Linked DNA regions of Homo sapiens: all the other regions are linked to region 1. The links come from fine-mapping of genetic effects on gene expression. A gene starts in region 1. Each other region holds a variant in brackets. All regions are shown on one strand. Distances are from middle to middle. Region 1 holds the start of BTBD9 (BTB domain containing 9). Region 2 overlaps BTBD9 (BTB domain containing 9). Region 3 overlaps BTBD9 (BTB domain containing 9). Region 4 overlaps BTBD9 (BTB domain containing 9).

Region 1 (4,629 bases):
GTATATTAACAACCTGATATTGGTTCAAGCGTAATATCCTTTACTTTCAAGTAAGGATAACACTTATTCTTGTCAAAGACTGTACTCTGATTAATACAACCTCTATCCCACCTTACAAGAAGGCTGTATCTTGTTAACAGTGGGATGCTGATAAGCCCGCCTTAATCCTTAACACTTTGCCTTCCCAACCTGCTAAGCCATCTCTCTCCAGTATTCCCCTATAAGAGACGTTCCGCTCCAGTTACCAGACATAAAAGTCGTCTTGGTATATCCTCCAACAACCAAATTCACATTATTATTTTCTCAGCTCCTGGTTTATTTCCTAACAAATTTTAACTTCTTTCAGAGACCAAGTCAAATCTTGCCTCTTTCAAAGAGTTCCCTAACTCAGCCTACACATCCTATCTTTTCTGATTTTCTACCACATTTATAGTCCTCAAACAGCACTGGTTACCTGCTACTTAACTTGGTTTTATAATTATTTTATACATCTCCTAGCTAGACTACTGCTCTCAAAGGGAAAAAAAAGACAGGTCTTCTATGTCATTTTTCACTCCATAATCCTCCTCCCACACCTATCATGATACTGGGCAGAGGGAGGCACATGTATTAAGTACTTGATGGACTGAACTCAATGCTTTCTATACATAGATACACCACTTGAGCATAGTGTGCTATATAACAAATATCCATTGCATGCCTACTCTGTGGCAAGCACATTTTTCCTATGTGTTAGACATAGGGCAAGGAGGAAAACACAGATGACTCCTGTCCTAAAAGCTATTACAGTGGAGGGAGGAAGACACTTTGAATTCCGAGTAATCTAATAAGTGTTACAAAGCAAGGTTATTACTGGTTCCAAGAGGTAACATACTTTACAGATTCTCAGTTATGAAACAGAATCATAGAATTTTAGACCTAAATGAGAACCTTGAACTTATTTTCCTCTATCCTCTTACACAAAACATTAGATTTCAGTACAGCCTATCTTTTCACTGGTTCTACAAATTGCCTTAATCAACAGAAAGAAAAGACTGGCTTCTTCCCTGTCTCCAATATTCCTCGCTCCCAAGTATGGTAACCACAACCCCTATACATCTACCCATGATAGAGTCCAGAGCACTGAGAAGACAGCACAGGGCTGAGGATGAGCTACACCTTTACATGCTGGGTTCTCCCATCATCAACACTTTCCGCCCACACAGTGAACAGAATCCGTATTTTCTGCCCAGAAAATAGCAGCCTGTACTGCCTTTAGGAAAAACAAACAAAACATGCTTCCATACTTCCTTGGATCTACTAATGACAAAAGCACAACACGGTTCTGGGAAATATAGCAAGATAACTAAGTCTATGAGGAAGTAAGAAATGAGGATGCCTATCAGCACCTTGGTCTCAAAATCTGTAACAACAATGTACTAAAACGCCAAGGAAACACATGCACATACATGTGAAGTTAGAAACTCTAGGCAACAGGTTGGCTGCCCCGGATCTATACTGACAGGTCGCCCTCCCAAGGTCGTGGGTGTGTCTGATGCCGCACGCAGGCACTGATTCACAACTCTCTCCATAACAACCAGCTCCTACTCAGAGGCTGGCCAGGGCAGGGGAGATGAGGGCCCCAGCAGTCCCAAACTTTCCAAACCCCCACCCCGGGGTCCCGGGTTTCGCCTCCTCAGTCCCAGGCAACGTCGTCTCAGACAGGATACGAGACTGCTAGGGAACCTGGGCTGCCCCTGATTCGAACTCCTCTCTTTGGGAGGCTGGTAGAGCCACCCCGAATCCCCGAAACGTCTACTTCCCACTACACCTTCGTGGACTGCGAACGGGACGGCTACCGCTCTCCCAGAGCACCCGGGCCCAAGAAATGACCCTCGTCAGGCCCCGTCCCAGCTCCTCCCCCGCCCCCGGAAAAAGCGGCGGAGGGGCGGGGGGCGGTGCGCGCGGATACGGCGGGGGCGCGCGTCCCCGCGCCGCAGGTGCGGCCAGGCCCCACCTCCCCTGCAAGGACCCGGCTACTCACCCCAGCGATGCTCCTCTGAGACCAAGCTGCGACACAGACGCCTCTTCCGCCCGCTCCGCACCCCTCTCTGCGCCACCGCCCCCTTGGCCGCTTCCGTGGCCGCCGTCCTCGCCGCCGCCCCGGCTGCTGCGGCGCGCGTCCGCTTTCACGCACTCCGCCGTGGCCGCGCACGCGCCACTGCGCGCTGGCGTCACTTAGCAACCGATCGACAGCGGGCTGCTGGGTCCGGCGATGCAGGCCCAGAAAGTCGCCTAAGGCAGCTTCCGCGGCTTTTTCGCATCGGCCCGACCCTCTGCCCCTCCAGAACAGGGGGCCCCAGGGTGTGGCTGCCCTGCCGGCACCTGGCTCCGGGTAAGTCGAGTCACCACACGTCACTGTATGGCGTCACCGGCGCACGTCACTACGGATGAGAAGGTCCTGGGCGCCTGTGGAGTGACCTCGTCCAGACCGCCGCAGACCCGATCGGCAAGTTCTTGGAGGTGCAGGAAGGTTCTCCAAGGAGTAGGACCAGAAAGGGATGAGAGCGCGAGCGCGGTTAATGTCGAGGCTGCTAAGTGATGCTCGTTAATTTCGCAGCAGGGTGTGACTGGCCCAGCCTTGACTCTCAGTTTCCTCTCTCAGTAAATGGGCATAATAATACCGGTCCAGCCTACGCTGGAGAATTGTGAGGTGAAAATGAAATAAGGTATGCAAAGGTACTTTGTAAGTATAAAGCCCATTTGACTTGGTGGCTCAAGCCTGTAATCCCAGCACTTTGGGAGGCCGAGGTGGGCGGATCGCTTGAGCTCAGGAGTTCGACACCAGCCTGGGTAACATAGTGAAACCCCGTCTCTACAAAAAAGACAAAAACTAAATGGGCATGTTGGCGCGCGCCTGTAGTCACAAATGCTCGGGGGGCTGAGGTGGGAGGATCGCTTGAACCTGGGGAGTTCAAGATTGCAGTGAACCGTGATCGCGCCGCTGCACTCCAGCCTCTGCAGTGAGAGCAAGACACTGTCTCAAAAAAATGTATTTATCTATCTACATAGATAAGAGTCCTAGAAATCCGGGTGCAGGTCTGACTGTAGCTGGTGTAGGAAAGTCAGTTATCCCCGACGCTGGAGCAAGCTAGGGGACCGCCCTTGCAGTTGTTGGAGGAGACAAATTGGGAAGGACTTAATTCCGGGCAAAGGAAGCTTCATGAGTAAAAGTAGAAAGTGAAAATGGTCAGGAAAAGCAAGGCTTGGGGCAGGGAGACCCATTTTTAGGCCATTGCAGTACTCCAGACAAGTGATAAGAACATTAAACAAGGCATTGGCAGTGGGAATAGAGGAGGGGATAGATGTTAGCGCCATTAAGGTGGTAGAATTCACAGCACTGAGTGCGGATAAATGAGTAGGCCAGGTTTCTAGCATGAGTGCTGAGGTAGACAGTGGTAACATTTAGCAAGATGGCAAGCTACATGAGTCTTGATTATCCACAAGTGTCTAAGTTACTATTATAGATAGTGATGGTGACATTTCTTAGGAGGATGACCAGATATGTGGAGTATGATGATGAGTTCAAATATGGATATGTTTGTTAGGGAAACATTTACTCTCCATTCACAATGTCTTTCTTCCATATGGAATGATATCCATTAGTGTAATACTCTCCTGGTTTCTCTTATACCTGTCTGCAACTCACTCTTGCCTAGAGGAGTGACTTCCTGATTGGTGAACTTAAATGGGAGAAACTGGACATGTGGCATCTATCCCATTCTTTTTCTCTTAAAAGATAACTATCTTCAGGGAACTGTCCTGGTGTTCTTTTCCGTTTCTTCTGGAGCAGGGCCTGTGGGTAGGGACAAGGGTGCCTAGTCCAGGGCTACAAAGAGAGTATATGTATTTAATTCCAGAGTTTGGCATTAGGAAGCTGTCTGTCCACAGATAATATTTAATACCAGCTTTGTCAGCTGTGTTACACAGAATAATGATCCCCCCCAACCAAAAAAAAAAGGATGACCACACCCTAATACTCAGAACCCATGAATATGTTATATTATGTGGCAAAAGGGACTTTGCAGATATGATTAAATGATGTATCTAGGGAGATTATCCTGGATTGTCTGACTGGGCTGGAGGCAGGAGGGTCAGAGTCAGAGAAGGAGATGTGATGATGGAAGCAGAGGTCAGACAGAGATTTGAAGATGCTATACTGTTGGCTTTGAAGATGGACCCAAGAAACGCAAGCAAATTGTAGATGCGGGAGAAGGCAAGGAAATGGATTCTTCTCTAGCACCCTAAGAACACAGCCCTGCCAACACCTTGATTTTAGGACTTCTGACTTCTAGAACTGCGAGATAAGAAACTTGTATGTTTTAAGGTACCAAGTTTGTGCTAACTTGTTACAACAGCAATAGGAAACTGATACAGTCAGTAATAAAGATAATAGTTGGTTTCCTGCAGCTTTCTCCATTACCTGGAAAAGAAGGGTACAATTCAGTAGGTCCCCTCAGAGACTATAGCAATATGACTGTGACCTGATGGAACCTCCACATCTAGAGAAAAATGTCCAATAAACACTCAAACTGTACAGGTCTATGAATGAGGAAAGAGGTTGAGTTAAAATAGATTTGGAAGAAATAA
Region 2 (4,000 bases), 470 kb before region 1:
TGCCCACCTCTGCCACGGCATCGCTGCAGACCTGCCCTGCCCGGGCCGTGCCCGACCTGGGCATCGCTCGGAGGAGCTGGTCACCACATAGAAGGTAAGATTAAAATAATAACACCGACAAGCAAGCACTAATGAGGAAAAACTCCTGGAAGGAAGCAAATTTAATTTTCTTTTCCTCTTTGACACCTTTCTTCCCTGTCCAAAGGGAGGTTCTTAATTGAAGTCTGTGAGGGGAGCGCTCCATCTCTTTATCACCAAGTGGCCTCAGTACACAGAACGCTCGCTTTTTATTGTAGATTATACCTTCCTTTTCCCCCTTGGCTCTGGAAAGGATAAGTGATTACAATTTTGTTATCTTCTAAATTAAAAAGAAGGTGAAGTTGACTGGGCTGGAGCCATCTGCACAGCAGTTTGACAACTGGGGCGACAGCATAATACTGGGCAATTTTTTGCACAATTCAAAAGCTTTTTTTCTCTTTTTTGCCAAGGAATCAGTTTAACAAACATCCTACTCTTGCTGAAAATAATTTCTTTTCCCAACTCTTCTAGGAATAAAACACTTTTAATGTATTTGTCAGGAATCGACACTTCATTTAATAGGATTTAAAAAGTGACAATTTAAAGAGCAATTGAGAAGAGTCCCACATCCATCATGGCTTGTGCTTCTAACTAAAATCAAAGGAATGAAAGCAGAAAAAGCACTGAGAAAATGGTAAAACGGGTGTGTGTGTGTGTGTGTGTGTGTGTGTGTGTGTGTGTGTGTGTGTGTGAGAGGGAGAGACGGTGGGGGCGGGGGGTGGTTCATAGCTGCTTCAAGTCCAAAGTGCTCACAACGGCTCCTGTGAGACTGCCCTGCTGGGTGCTGGCTGCATGGACACAGCTGCTGCCCAGCACACACCCTACCTGCCCTACACTCTCAGTCCACCCCAAATGACCCTCCCCAGAGCTGCCAGAAGGTGACTTTGAAGGCTTTTTTCCCCAAAAGCTCCAATGAAGTTGCCTTTCTACTCTCAAAAAAAAAAAAAAAAAAAAAAAAAAAAAAAAAAAATAATAATAATAATAATAATAATAATAATGAAAAGTGAAGGGTGGGGGTGCTGGCCACCTCCCATTTCTTTGCCTGGGTGGTGGTGACCATGGCGCCCTTGTGTCCTTTCCATTGGTTACTGAGGACCATTGCCCTCATGGGCCCAGGCCACAGGCACCCACCTGTCAGCCTCACCTGCCACCTCTCTCCATGTTGGCTTGTTGCCCCTGGGGCTGGCCTGGGCATGGGGGAGCTTATCTCCCCGACCAGGGGCTTGGCCATGTCTCCTTCACAACCCCCGCTCCCCACGGACTGAGCCTCCACTCTCTGCTGGGCTGAGGGCTCTGTGGTGCCCAGGAGCCCTCCCAGCCACGTGCCAGCCCATCCCATCATCAGCACTTGCTTTTAGCTTCAAGTGTTTAGGTCGCTTTGGTCCTGGTGGCCCAGGGGAGAAGTGCTCTGTAGGACCAGCCAGGCTCTGGGGAACTCCAGGCTGCCCGGGGACTTTCTGGTAGCCACTCACTTGTCCCTGTTCCCTGGAGATGAGGTCCTTGCCCTGGTGTGTGGTGTGACACACCTTGACTTGGCCTCCAGGCCCAGCTGGACACACGAAAAGAGTTCCTGCCCCAGTCAGAAGGCCCCTCAGGGAAGGGCAGTACCCCTCCAGCCTGGGAAAGGAGGTGAACCCGTGTCCTTTTGGAGTCCAGGGCAGGCTCCCAGCAAAGCGAGGGGGAGGCGAGCTGGCAGCGCGGCTGTGAGGGAATGAGACTTTGCCATCAGTCCTCACCAATGACATCTACTGTTAGTGCCACCCCATCGTCCCCATACTTCTCTTTATCTGATGATAAGGGGCATCTTTAAAGTGCT[A/G]GAAGACAGGAGGGACAGAGATCTGGAAGGGCATGCCCCGAAGGAAAGAACCGCCACAGGCCAGGGAGCTGCAGATGTGGGTCTAGGGCCGAGGCTTTGCAGCGTATTCCTTTTCAGATGCGAGGCCGAGCTGCCAAGCTGCTATCTCGTTCCCGGAGCACAGGAGGGCTCTGCGTGCTCTGTGGGCAGGGGACTGGAGGGTTGCAGATGCAGGGCCGGGCAGCTCCTCCAGCACCCCCACCAGCCCACCCTCTCTTCCCAAGGTCAGCAGCATGCTGCTTCAGGCCAAGGGCCTCTGGGCAGGTGATGCCCATGTTTAAAAAGAAGCATGTGAATGGCTCATTTCAAAATGTTTGAACTCTGCCCTTGATATGACTGTCTGGCTCCTTTGTCCCCATCTGGGTAGAAAACACACTGGGGAAGGAAGTGCTGTGTGTGCAGGAGCTCTCTGGCTAATTGGCAACCCGGGGCTGGGGGCTGACAGAGTCAGCAACCATGCTGGAGGGCCCCCCACTGTGAGCGGGCGCCCACCGTTCCTTACAGGAGCCTCCTCCCATTATGAAATGCCTGGCATCCCAGGAGTGTTCCACTCTCCCACACAACAGGGAAGTGGCAGAGATCAGAGCTGAGGGGATAGGAAGCAGCTCAGCCCTGCAGCTGGAGCTACCGGGGAGGATGGAGAGCTGCAGACCCTGGCTTCTCCTCAGGAACGTGTCCACCCTGCCCCGGTAGCCCTCTGATGTCTGCCATCCTGTGTTCACACGGAAAGACAGTCTTCCAATTTAATCACGCAGTTTGATGCTACCCTACTATTTCCATATGGACAAATCACTCAAAATCAAGTTAAACTAGGAGGAAGCGGCTGACCCGTTGGCTCTTTCTAGAGCGCAGCTGATATGTCTTTGACACACCTGAAAGGAAACTCCCACGCCCTCACCCTCCTTTGATCAGGGTTGCAGGTTGGCGCCGAAGACCCAAGGACTGCAGTGCTGCTCACGTGCCATGCCGTCCTGGGGAGACTCCCAGGCTGATGCTGATGGCGACAGAGGCCGGAGCTCTGGGGACAGCGGAGGGGCAGGCAATGTTGTGCGCAGTTACCCAGGGCAGGCAGCACTGGAATGGAAATCACTAAGTAGGAGACGGAGCCACATCAAGCCACCATCGTCAAATGAGGTCCTTTTGATGAGGATTAGGAGAAAAGCTTCTTGGAACTGCTATTTTTCAGTCCCCAGTTGAGTACTGTGGTGTGGGGGAAGCACGGAGTCCCAGTTCTGCGTTCCTGACGCTGATGGGCAGGTGGCTGCCTCTCCAATGCTTCGATAAACACAACTGGAGGGGCAGCTAAGCCACGGCAGTCCCCGGCAGGTTTGGCCACGCCAGAACTCGGTATATGTTTATCTACATGGACTTCGGAACAGTGAATTAGCAGCGGGCATAGTAACTATTTCCTTGTCAGCCTCCCAAGCTTAAAGGCTGGATCCATGTCAGGAATGACAGGTGAGTAACTCAGCCACACGAGTGACTATTAACTCCAGTGTCCACAGGTTGATTTGCTTGTGTGCATTTGTGGCACTTCCTCTGTGGCCCAAGTGCCAGGATGAGCTGCATCCGTGTCTCATTTAGGAGACATGCACGATGGGTCTCTGTCCCCGCAAGCTGAACCGTTCAAAACCAAGGAAGGAAAATTATAGCATCAAAAGGGATTAAAACTAGTGATTTGCTGTTTGAGCATTTCAAATAGATCCGGAACACCTATGATTCACTGAGTGGAGAATAACTAAAACAAATAAAAAATCATTTAGTTGCCAGGGCAATGTATTCCAGCAGAATGAACACTCTATGGAGGCCCATTCCTAAAGGGTGCCTCCAGGTAGCAAAGGCCCAATGGCTTTCTCCTCCGCCTGAGTGTTTGCGTGCCATTTTTGTATTCCAACACAGGCCTGTCTATGACTTCCTCCTGTTCCCTGCGCCTGGGCTAGATTAGAGAGGTAGGGTGTTAATGGTGGACTTGATGAAGATTGAAGACCCATTTTCTCCCCCTTGAGACCTGCCTGATTTGGATAAATTGAGAAGAACAAAGCAGCCCCTTTCTGTCCTTGGGAGAAA
Region 3 (4,629 bases), 460 kb before region 1:
GGAAAAGAGTGTTTTTACAAATGGATAGGCGGGTGAAGACACAGAACCTGCCATGGGTGGGGGTGGGCAAGCTACAGGTGACAGGTGGGGAGGGAACAGCCTCTGCACACCAACAGAGACAGGATGAACATCACATATGCAGCAGACACGGCCAGAGGATGACGCTGCACACGTGAGCAGGGTCAGGAGGTACACACGTACCACAAGCATGAAGCACCTCCTACGTGCCTGACTGGGCGAGGTCCCAGCTGCCCTCAGAGGGTGTACGGTCCAGTGAGGCCAGCAGACACATAAGCCAGGGAGAAGGAGCCCCAGGGCATAGAGGAGTGGGACCCAGCCAGGCAGGCGGTCAGGGAAGGCTTCCTGGGGGAGGAGACATCTGAGGTGAGTCTGGAAGGAAGAGGCAGCCAAGCTAGAGAGGATGGAGGAGGGGGGGACTTGGTGTGGAAGAAAAACAGGAAGAACTACACAGGTTCTCAAGCCAAAGGGTGGCAACAGAGCAAGGAGGGCCTGGGAGCAGCAGGGTGTGGGGGGGAGGGGTGGGGCAGAGGCCACACCCAATGGGACAGGGCGAGGGCCTGGCCTTAAGCTGGGCAGGGATCCTGATACTCTTGGACAAAGGAGGCTATTTATTTATTTATTTATTTATTTATGAGACAGAGTCTCGCTCTGTCGCCAGGCTGGGGTGCAGGGGGGCTATCTCAGCTCACTGCAACCTCCGCCTCCCAGGTTCAAGCGATTCTCCTGCCTCAGCCTCCTAAGTAGCTGAGACTACAGGCACGTGCCACCACACCCAGCTAATTTTTGTGTTTTTAGTAGAGATGGGGTTTCACCATGTTGGCCAGGATGGTCTTGATCTCTTGACCTCATGATCCGCCCACCTCAGCCTCCCAAAGAGCTGGGATTACAGGCGTGAGCTACCATGCCCAGCCTACGAGACTCTTTAAAAACTAATATTTCTTAAACTAAAAAAGTTATTTAAAAAGGAATATACATTTGTGGTGACAAATTCAAATAACAAGTATTTTAAAAATCTAGATGACAACAAACCTTTAAACCTTGGAATCCCCTGATTTAGCAATTTGGAATCAATAGGCAGGAGTCATTTTCAAATCAAGAAAGATCAGAATTTGGTAACAGACTGGATGAGACTGATAAAGGAGAGCGCCCACAATGACTCTCAGGGTTCCCTGGAAGGGACGGGGGCGGGCATACTGCGGTGCTACAGAAGGTGGCAGCAGCAGGTCCCAGGGCTCCAGTTACAGCAGCTCAGACCTGCACTCATGCCAAGGACTCTCACAGACCCTTTCCCTGCAATGATTTCACTGAGTGCAGACTCCAGCAGGTGCGCCCACAGCGCAGCTCCTGCCCTCAGGACCTCTCAGGCAGTTGGGGGCAGAGGCACCTCTGTGCAGGGGCCTGTGTTCACTCTTCTGCAAATGGCGAGTGGCAGGCTGGGAATGAACCTCAGGGCTGTGCCTTCCTTAAGCCTGGACTGTTCCACTGTATCAACATACCTGCCTCACACAAACAATTCTACCAGCACGGGATCAGTAATATTTCATACATCAGAGGTGTGTGAGAAACTAATTTTGCCTGGAAGAGGGGTCAGGGCAGGCTACAGAGAGGAAGGTGTGCACAGGTGAGGCCTTGAGGGGTTGGGAGGCAGGGAGGGGAGCTGCTTTCCAGGCAAAGGGAACGAGGAGAAGATTTCCACATAAAGATCTGGGCCTTGGCACCTCACTCCTGGCAGCCTGTCTGTAATTCACTCTGGTCACCCCTCTGTGGAGCAGTGTGCCTGCCTCAGTCATCTCTGTTGATGATTTAAGCCTAGCAGCCTTCAGCCAAATGTGGCAACTGTGTAAGCCAATACCCAGCTAG[C/G]TCCTGGACCACTCGGATGCCCATCAACATGTACGAGGCTGGGGTTACTTCTCCTGGGATCCCAGAAATCCTCAGATTTGCACGCAATGCAAATGGGCATTCGGGGGGGCCTGTGGGTGGTCCCGATTCTGTTCTTGGGAGCGGGAGTGAAAAGCAAGCCTGTCGTGGGGAAACTGGCACCTTCACTGGTGGCCACGCTGCTGGGGCTGGGCGTGAAGCTGCCTCCGGCCCTTGGAGAGGAGTGTGAGGGAAGGGAGGCGGCAGTGCTTTTTATACACAGGAGCTGGAGGAGGGTGATGGCAGCTTGGAGGAAGTCATCACTGCCATGGTAGGGGGGAAATCTGGAAATATTGGGCATGTGGCCCTCCCCTTCCCACCGTAACCCCAAGCTCCTCAGCCCACTTCTTTCCACCAGGCACCTTTGGGCTTCCCTCTAGGTGGAACAGCCAAGTCCTGAGTCTCTTTGCTCAGAAGCTCAAGTGATTCAATTTCTTTTCTCCAAACTTTCCCAAGACTGCAATACCTCTTGGAAAGGACGTGACCAAATGTGGCTGAGACACACTGGGCAGAGCCGCACTACTCATTTATGCAAAACCATTACTCTGGCCGCCGCATCAGTCTCCCTTCCCCTTTTCAGCAATCATGTATCCCATTAGCCTGTTTGATTGCCGCTGCTCACAAAGGGGCGCCTTCGCTGAACCGTCTTCAATGGCCTCTGGATCTCTCCCCTGAGAGAAGCCGGCTAATTTGGAATGTGGTCGTGTGTATGAATCCGACACAGCCTCAGTCACAATCGGGTGTCCTTTTCTGTAGCTGCTGTTTATGATCACTTTGCCTTGCCTCTCTGGGAGCCATAATTCACCACATACTGGAGATAGGCTGGGTGTTCTTTTCCCCGTGAATCCTGGACAGGATGTACACAAATGTGCTAGCCCCTTCTTGGTGACCAGGCTAATTCCTCAGTGGCTTGGTGGCTGCTGCCTCTCATTAGAGGGATTCCCTAAGCACTATTTGCTTGACAAATTTTCAAGGTTTTTAAAAGCAGAAGCCTTTGCTAATTTTCCCAAGTTGGCCTAAGAGTCCACTGTGAACTGCAGCAGAAATTGGGGAAATTTAATAAATGTTGATCAATGACTCTGCCTTGCTTTCCTGGTTCCTCCTGAATAATTTCCACAGACTGCTTTCATGCCAACCAATACAAATAGGATTTCTGATCCAAGTTTTCAACTTACAAATACAAGTTGACAAATCTTTATAAAATAGATATCTACCTCTTGATGTCTGTCCATAAGTCAGATGCAAAGCCATGACTTCTAACTTACACTCCCCTAAAGATCCCCTATTTCCCTTTCACAGTGGCTGATGTGGTGGCATCACACACCCACCCAGCGTTCAGTGACATAACAGATCCTGACGATGGTCACCATTAACATCTCTCTTATGCTCGCCTCAGAGCAGAAGGTAACAGTCCATCTACAGACTGCAGAGATGTTTTGTTTTTGTTCTTTAAAAATGAAGACGAGTGCCTCCAACAAAATATCCCTTTTGATAAACCTTGGTTTTTTATGTGCATCTGAACAGCCCAACACATTGTTTTCAGTTAGGGGCCGGGCATGGTGGCTCACACCTTATAATCACAGCACTTTGGGAGGCTGAGAGAGGCGGATCACTTGAGGTCAAGAGTTCGAGACCAGCCCGGCCGACGTGTCAAAACCTGGTCTCTACTAAAAATACAAAAATTAGCCAGGTGTGGTGGCAGATGCCTGTAATCCCAGCTGCTCGGGAGGCTAAGACAGGAGAATTGCTTGAACGTGGGAGGCGGAAGTTGCAGTGAGCCGAGATCGCGCCACTGCACTCCAGCCGGGAGACAGAGCGAGACTCTGTCTCAAAGACAAACAAACAAACAAACACAACAAAAAACAAAACTAGGAATTACTTCATAGGGAGACATTTCCAAATTGCGAGCAACAAATTTTCAGTATTGCTTAGGGTGATAGGATACCCAAATATTTTTGCACTAAGTATGGAGGTAAGTTTCTGGGTGACAATGCTTATGTACGGCAACAGCTTTTAAAAAAACTTTACAATATCATTTTCTCATATTCACATAGGCCAGGATATCCACAGATAATTGGAACTCTGATGCTTGGAAGGTTCTGGAAGAAGAGGCTTTCCAATCCCTATCACCCCAGGCAGCCCTGGAATTCCTGCCCTGTTTTTTATGTGTGTACACTCCAGAGTTCCAGGGAGAGAGTTACTTTCTTGTCTTAATGGATTCGGCTATAGAGTGGTAGAGGTATCTTTTAGTTATTTTTTTGAAAAACTAAGAAACAAAAAAAGGGAAGTGTTCTTGTTCGCAGGCTTCTGGGATGCCTGAATCTCCCCACCTGATAGATGTGGCCTCACCAGGGCCCCCTTCCCACACCAGACAGGCACCAAGAGAGCCTAGCCATGGCCCTGCTCTCCCCACAGGGCTGGCCCATGTGTCTCCAGCTGCCTGGGCGGTTCTTCACTTTGTGTGACCAGGCTCCGCATGTACCTTCTGTCTCAAAGGGCTCCAGCTGCGTCGAGGCTTCCAGCATCACCCCTCACTGCTGGCACAGCAATGGGACACATCTGAGGGGACCCTCACAAGCTGCTGTCTCCATGCGTCTCACTGCTGGGAGGCTCCTGGGTACTCATCTGCCCAGGTCTGGGGTCACTTTCTCCCAGGCCAGTTGAGGATGGAGAATTATTGTTGCTCCAATA
Region 4 (4,629 bases), 440 kb before region 1:
TTTTTTTGTATTTTTAGTAGAAATGGGGTTTCACCATGTTGGCCAGGATGGTCTCCATCTCTTGACCTAATGAACCACCTCGGCCTCCCAAAGTGCTGGGATTACACACGTGAGCCACTGCACCCAGCCCAAAAATGTCATTTTTTACAGAAACAGAAAAAAAAAATCCTAAAATTCATGTAGAACCAAAAAAGAGCCAGTATAGCTAAAGCAATCCTAAGAAAAAAGAACAAAGCTAGAGGCTTTGCAGTCACTACCTGACTTCAAAATATAGTACAAGGCTATAGTAATCAAAACAGATGGTATGAGTATAAAAACAGCCCAACAGAGTATACTGGAACACCCAGAAATAAATCCACATATCTACAGCCAACTGATACTCAACAAAGGAACCAAGAACTTACACCAGGGAAAGGATACCCTCTTCAATAAATGGTGCTGGGAAAATTGGATATCCATATGCAAACTGGACCCCTATCTCTCATCATATACAAAAATCAACTCAAGATTGATTAAGGACTTAAATGTAAGACCTGAAACTATAAAAATAATAGAAGAAAACATAGGGAAACCAGTTCAGGATATTGGTCTAGCCAAATGGGACTGTATTAAATTTAAAAATTTATGCACAGCAAAGTAAATAATCAATAGAGTGATAAGGTAATCTGTTGAATAGGAGAAAATACCCGCAAACTATTCATCTAACAAGGGACTAATATCCAGAATGTACAAATAAAAATTTCATTAAAAAATGGGCAAAGGACATGAATAGACACTTTTCAAAAGAAGACATACAAATAGCCAAAGGGTATATGAAAAAATGCTCAACATCACTAAGCATTGGGAAAATGTAAATCAAAACCACAATGAGATATCATCTTACCTCAGTTAGAATGCTATTATTAAAAAGACAAAAATAATAGATGTTGGTAAGAATGAAGAGAAAAAGGAACTCTTATACACTGTTGGTGGGAATGTAAATTAGTACAGAAACCATGGAAAACAGTATAGAGATTTCTCAATAAACTACTACTATTTTTCAAGCTGAGAAATAAATTTTTAAAAATCTAAAAGTACAACTATAGGAAATGGATAAATTTCTGGAAACATGCAATCTACCAAATGATCCAGCAATTTCACTTCTGGCTATCTATCCAAAAAAAAAGAAATCAGTATTTCAAAGGGATATCTGCACTCACATGTTAATGTGGCACTATTCACAATAGCAAAGAGATGGAATCAACCTAAGTGTCCATCAATGGACGTAAGGGTAAAGAAAATGTGGTATATTTACATAATGCAATACTGTTTGGCCATAAAAAAGAATGAAATCATGTCATTTGCAGCAACACGGATGAAACTGAAGGTCATTATGTTAAGTGATATCATTCAGGCCCAGAAAGACAAACCCCACATGTTTTCTCTCATATGTAGGAGCTAAAAAACTTGATCATATGAAGATAGAGAACAGAATGATAGATGCCAAAGGGTGGGAAGGGTGTGAAGGTGGAAGGGGGAAATGAAGAAAGGGGGGTGAATAGGTAGGAATTTACAGTTAGTTAGAAGAAATAAGTTCTAATGTTCCATAGCAGACTAGGGTGACTATAGTTAGCAACAATGTATTGTATATTTCAAAGTAGCTAAAAGGACTTGAAATGCTACCAACACATAGAAATGATAAATACTCAAGATGATGAATACTCCAAATAACCTGACTTGGTCATTACACATTCTATGCATGTAAAAAGCATTCACATGTAGCCCATAAATATGTAAAACACTATGTATCAATAAAATTAAAAATTAAAAAAAGATAACAGCAACTGTTGATGAAAATGTGAAGAAACTGGAACCCCTATATACTGCTTGTGGGAATGTTCAAAGGTGTGGCCACTTTGGAAAACAACCTGGCAGTTCCTCAGGTGGTTAAATAGAGAGGTGTGATATGATCCAAAAATTCTACTTCAAGATACATACCCAAGAAAAATGAAAACACATGTCCACACAAAAACTTGTTCATGAATCTTCACAGCTGCATTATTCATAATAAAAAGTGGAAACAACCCAAATGTCCATCAACTGATGAATGGATAGATAAAATGTAGTATATCCATACACTGGAATACTGTTCAGCAATAATAAGATTTTGATACACGCTATTAATATAATATGATGAACCCGCTAAGTGAAAGAAGCCAATAACAAAGGATCATGTATTGTATGATTCCATTTATATGAAATGTATAGAATATACAGACAGAAAGTAGATTAGTGGTTGCCTAGGGCTGGGGAATTAACTGGGGGGATTGGGAGGTGATGGCTATTGGGTATGTGGTTTCTTTCT[G/A]GAGTAATGAAAATGTTCAAAAATTGATTATGGTGATGGATGCAAACTCTGTGAATATACTAAAGCCATGGAATTGTGCACTTTCAGTGGGTGAATTGTATGGTATATGAATTGTATCTCAATAAAGCTGTTTAAAATGTTCAAAAAAAGACTGTAACATGAAAGATGACCAACAGCAAATAGAGAAAAGTAATGACTCAGAGGACATGGATACAGTTCAGTAAGCAGAATACAGCTTCAGGAAAAAAAAACCCTAAATTATCCTCAGAAAGATAAAAGGAAGCATTATTACATCTTTGAAATAGGAATAAATAAAATGATATGAAAAAATAACATTTAGTGAACAAGAAAGTGCTCTTGTAAATTAAAACTATGAGCGACATAAATAATTCAACAAATGGGTTAGAAAGTTAAGTTGAGGAAATTTCCCAGAATGTCAAATCAAATGACAAAGATAAAAAATAGAAGAGAAAGTATAAGAGAATAGAAGAATCAAATGAGGAATTCCACCATCTAATTTAGATGTTCCAGTAAGAAATATGATGTTCCAGAGAAAATATGAGCTAGGAAAGTGCCAAAGTCACACAACAAATTTTCCCACATATGAAGGACATAAGATTCCAGGTTAAAGATCCTACTAAGTAGCCATTACAAGAAATGAGAAAAGATCCGCACCAAAGTATATTATTAAGAAACTTTGGAAGATCTTAAAAGTTCTGGAGGGGGAAAAAGCAGGTCATCACAAAGACCTGGGAATCAGGTTCACATAAATTTTTCAAAAGCAACACTGGGGGTGAGAAGATAATAGATCACTTCCTTCTAAATGCTGAGGGAAAAATTAGTGACCATTCCCAGACAAAGTAAATGAAGTATGAGAACAGAATAAAGAAATTGTCATTCAGGCATAAAAAAAATTCACCTTCATCCTCTCTTTGTATTTATGCGAAGAAAAATAAAAATAATAAAATAAAAACTTCACCTCCAATGCATTCACAAGGAACTACCAGAAAATGTGTTCCACCAAAACAAAGGACCAACTTAAGATAAAGAAAGTTATGGGATACTATCACTTGAGGCCAGGAGTTCGAGACCAGCCTGGCCAACATGGCAAAACCCCTTCTTTACTAAAAATACAAAAATTAGCCAGGCATGGTGGTGCGCACCTGTACTCCAAGCTACTCAGGAGGCTGAGGCATGAGAATTGCTTGAACCTAAGAGGCGGAGGTTGCAGTGAGCCAACACTGTGCCACTGCACTCCAGCCTGAGAGAGCAGGAGTCTGTCTCAAAAAAAAAAAAGAAAGAAAGAAAGAAAGGAAGTTATGGGATCCACAAAACAGAGAATGTGAAATGGAATAAAGGCAAGAAGAATTCCTAAGATAATGGGATGGGAGATCCCAGGATGAGAGCCGTAAAACAGGCCCACAGGACAACTAGTCCAGACTGCAGAGGGAAGGCGGGCAGCTTATGGGAACATCTCAAGGGAGAAAGAGAAACTAATTGACCAGATGTATTAACCAGGTTACAAGAATTTGTGTTGCTCTGACAACACAAATTGTGTTGTGGGGGAAGAATCAGTGATAGTACACAGAAAATTAATGAAGGATAGGTATACAGAAAACTAAGCAATTTTTTTTTTTTGGAGATGGAGTCTTGCTCTGTTGCCAGGCTAGAGTACAGTGGCATGATTTTGGCTCACTGCAACCTCGCCTCCCAGCTTGGGAGGCTTGAACCCACCTCCCGGGTTCAAGCAATTCTCTGCCTCAGCCTCCCAAGTAGCTGGGATTACAGGCACCTGCCACCATGCCCAGCTAATTTTTGTATTTTTAGTAGAGATGGGGTTTCACCATCTTGGCCAGGCTGGTCTTGAACTCCTGACCTCACGTGATCCACCTGCCTCAGCCTCCCAAAGTGCTGGGATTACAGGCATGAGACACTGCACCTGGCCACTTTTTAACTCTAGGGAAAACAAATGATAAAAAAAAAAAGGTGATCATAGTACACTACATGGCTTGGCTCTGAACGATAGTTACATAGTCATCCTAATGCCAACAAGAAATCTGATACAAAGAAAAACTGTGATTTAACTAAACAGGAGGATGAAGCAGACAGGTGCATGTGTGTACTTGCAAGGGCAGAGGGCAATGAAACTAAATCCTTATCTTTCAAAGTAGGAACACAATAGATAATTCCAGTAATGTAATTAGGAAATAGCAGAATAAGCACATAGTTTAGAATATGAAGATACAGACCAAAAAAAAAAGAAGTCTAAAAGAGATGAATATGTT

The links. PIP is the estimated chance that this variant, and not a neighbour inherited with it, causes the effect.
Region 2: its variant is the best candidate, but not a certain one, in a credible set for the expression of BTBD9 in blood mononuclear cells (TOPMed, PIP 0.67).
Region 3: its variant is the best candidate, but not a certain one, in a credible set for the expression of BTBD9 in whole blood (TOPMed, PIP 0.55).
Region 4: its variant is the best candidate, but not a certain one, in a credible set for the expression of BTBD9 in whole blood (TOPMed, PIP 0.58).

What each region holds. Positions count from the first base shown.
Region 1 is chr6:38,637,777-38,642,405 of GRCh38, forward strand. It overlaps BTBD9 (BTB domain containing 9), which reads right to left and starts at 2,153. Exons shown (of 11, transcript NM_001099272.2): 1 at 2,024-2,153. LOC105375044 (a long non-coding RNA gene) reads left to right here and starts at 2,619. Exons shown (of 3, transcript XR_926767.4): 1 at 2,619-2,708. RefSeq lists a silencer at 1,816-2,015 and enhancers at 2,115-2,615, 2,416-2,495.
Region 2 is chr6:38,170,835-38,174,834 of GRCh38, forward strand. It overlaps BTBD9 (BTB domain containing 9), which reads right to left. Exons shown (of 11, transcript NM_001099272.2): 11 at 1-4,000. Among named protein-coding and RNA genes, the nearest start is that of BTBD9-AS1, 310 kb to the right of the region's middle. The variant A/G (reference allele first, on the strand shown) is at 1,895.
Region 3 is chr6:38,178,219-38,182,847 of GRCh38, forward strand. All of the region lies in intron 10 of BTBD9 (BTB domain containing 9), which reads right to left. It overlaps LOC124901315 (a long non-coding RNA gene), which reads left to right. Exons shown (of 2, transcript XR_007059571.1): 2 at 1-4,629. Among named protein-coding and RNA genes, the nearest start is that of BTBD9-AS1, 300 kb to the right of the region's middle. The variant C/G (reference allele first, on the strand shown) is at 1,882.
Region 4 is chr6:38,202,252-38,206,880 of GRCh38, forward strand. The region is part of intron 9 of BTBD9 (BTB domain containing 9); the gene reads right to left. Among named protein-coding and RNA genes, the nearest start is that of BTBD9-AS1, 280 kb to the right of the region's middle. The variant G/A (reference allele first, on the strand shown) is at 2,345.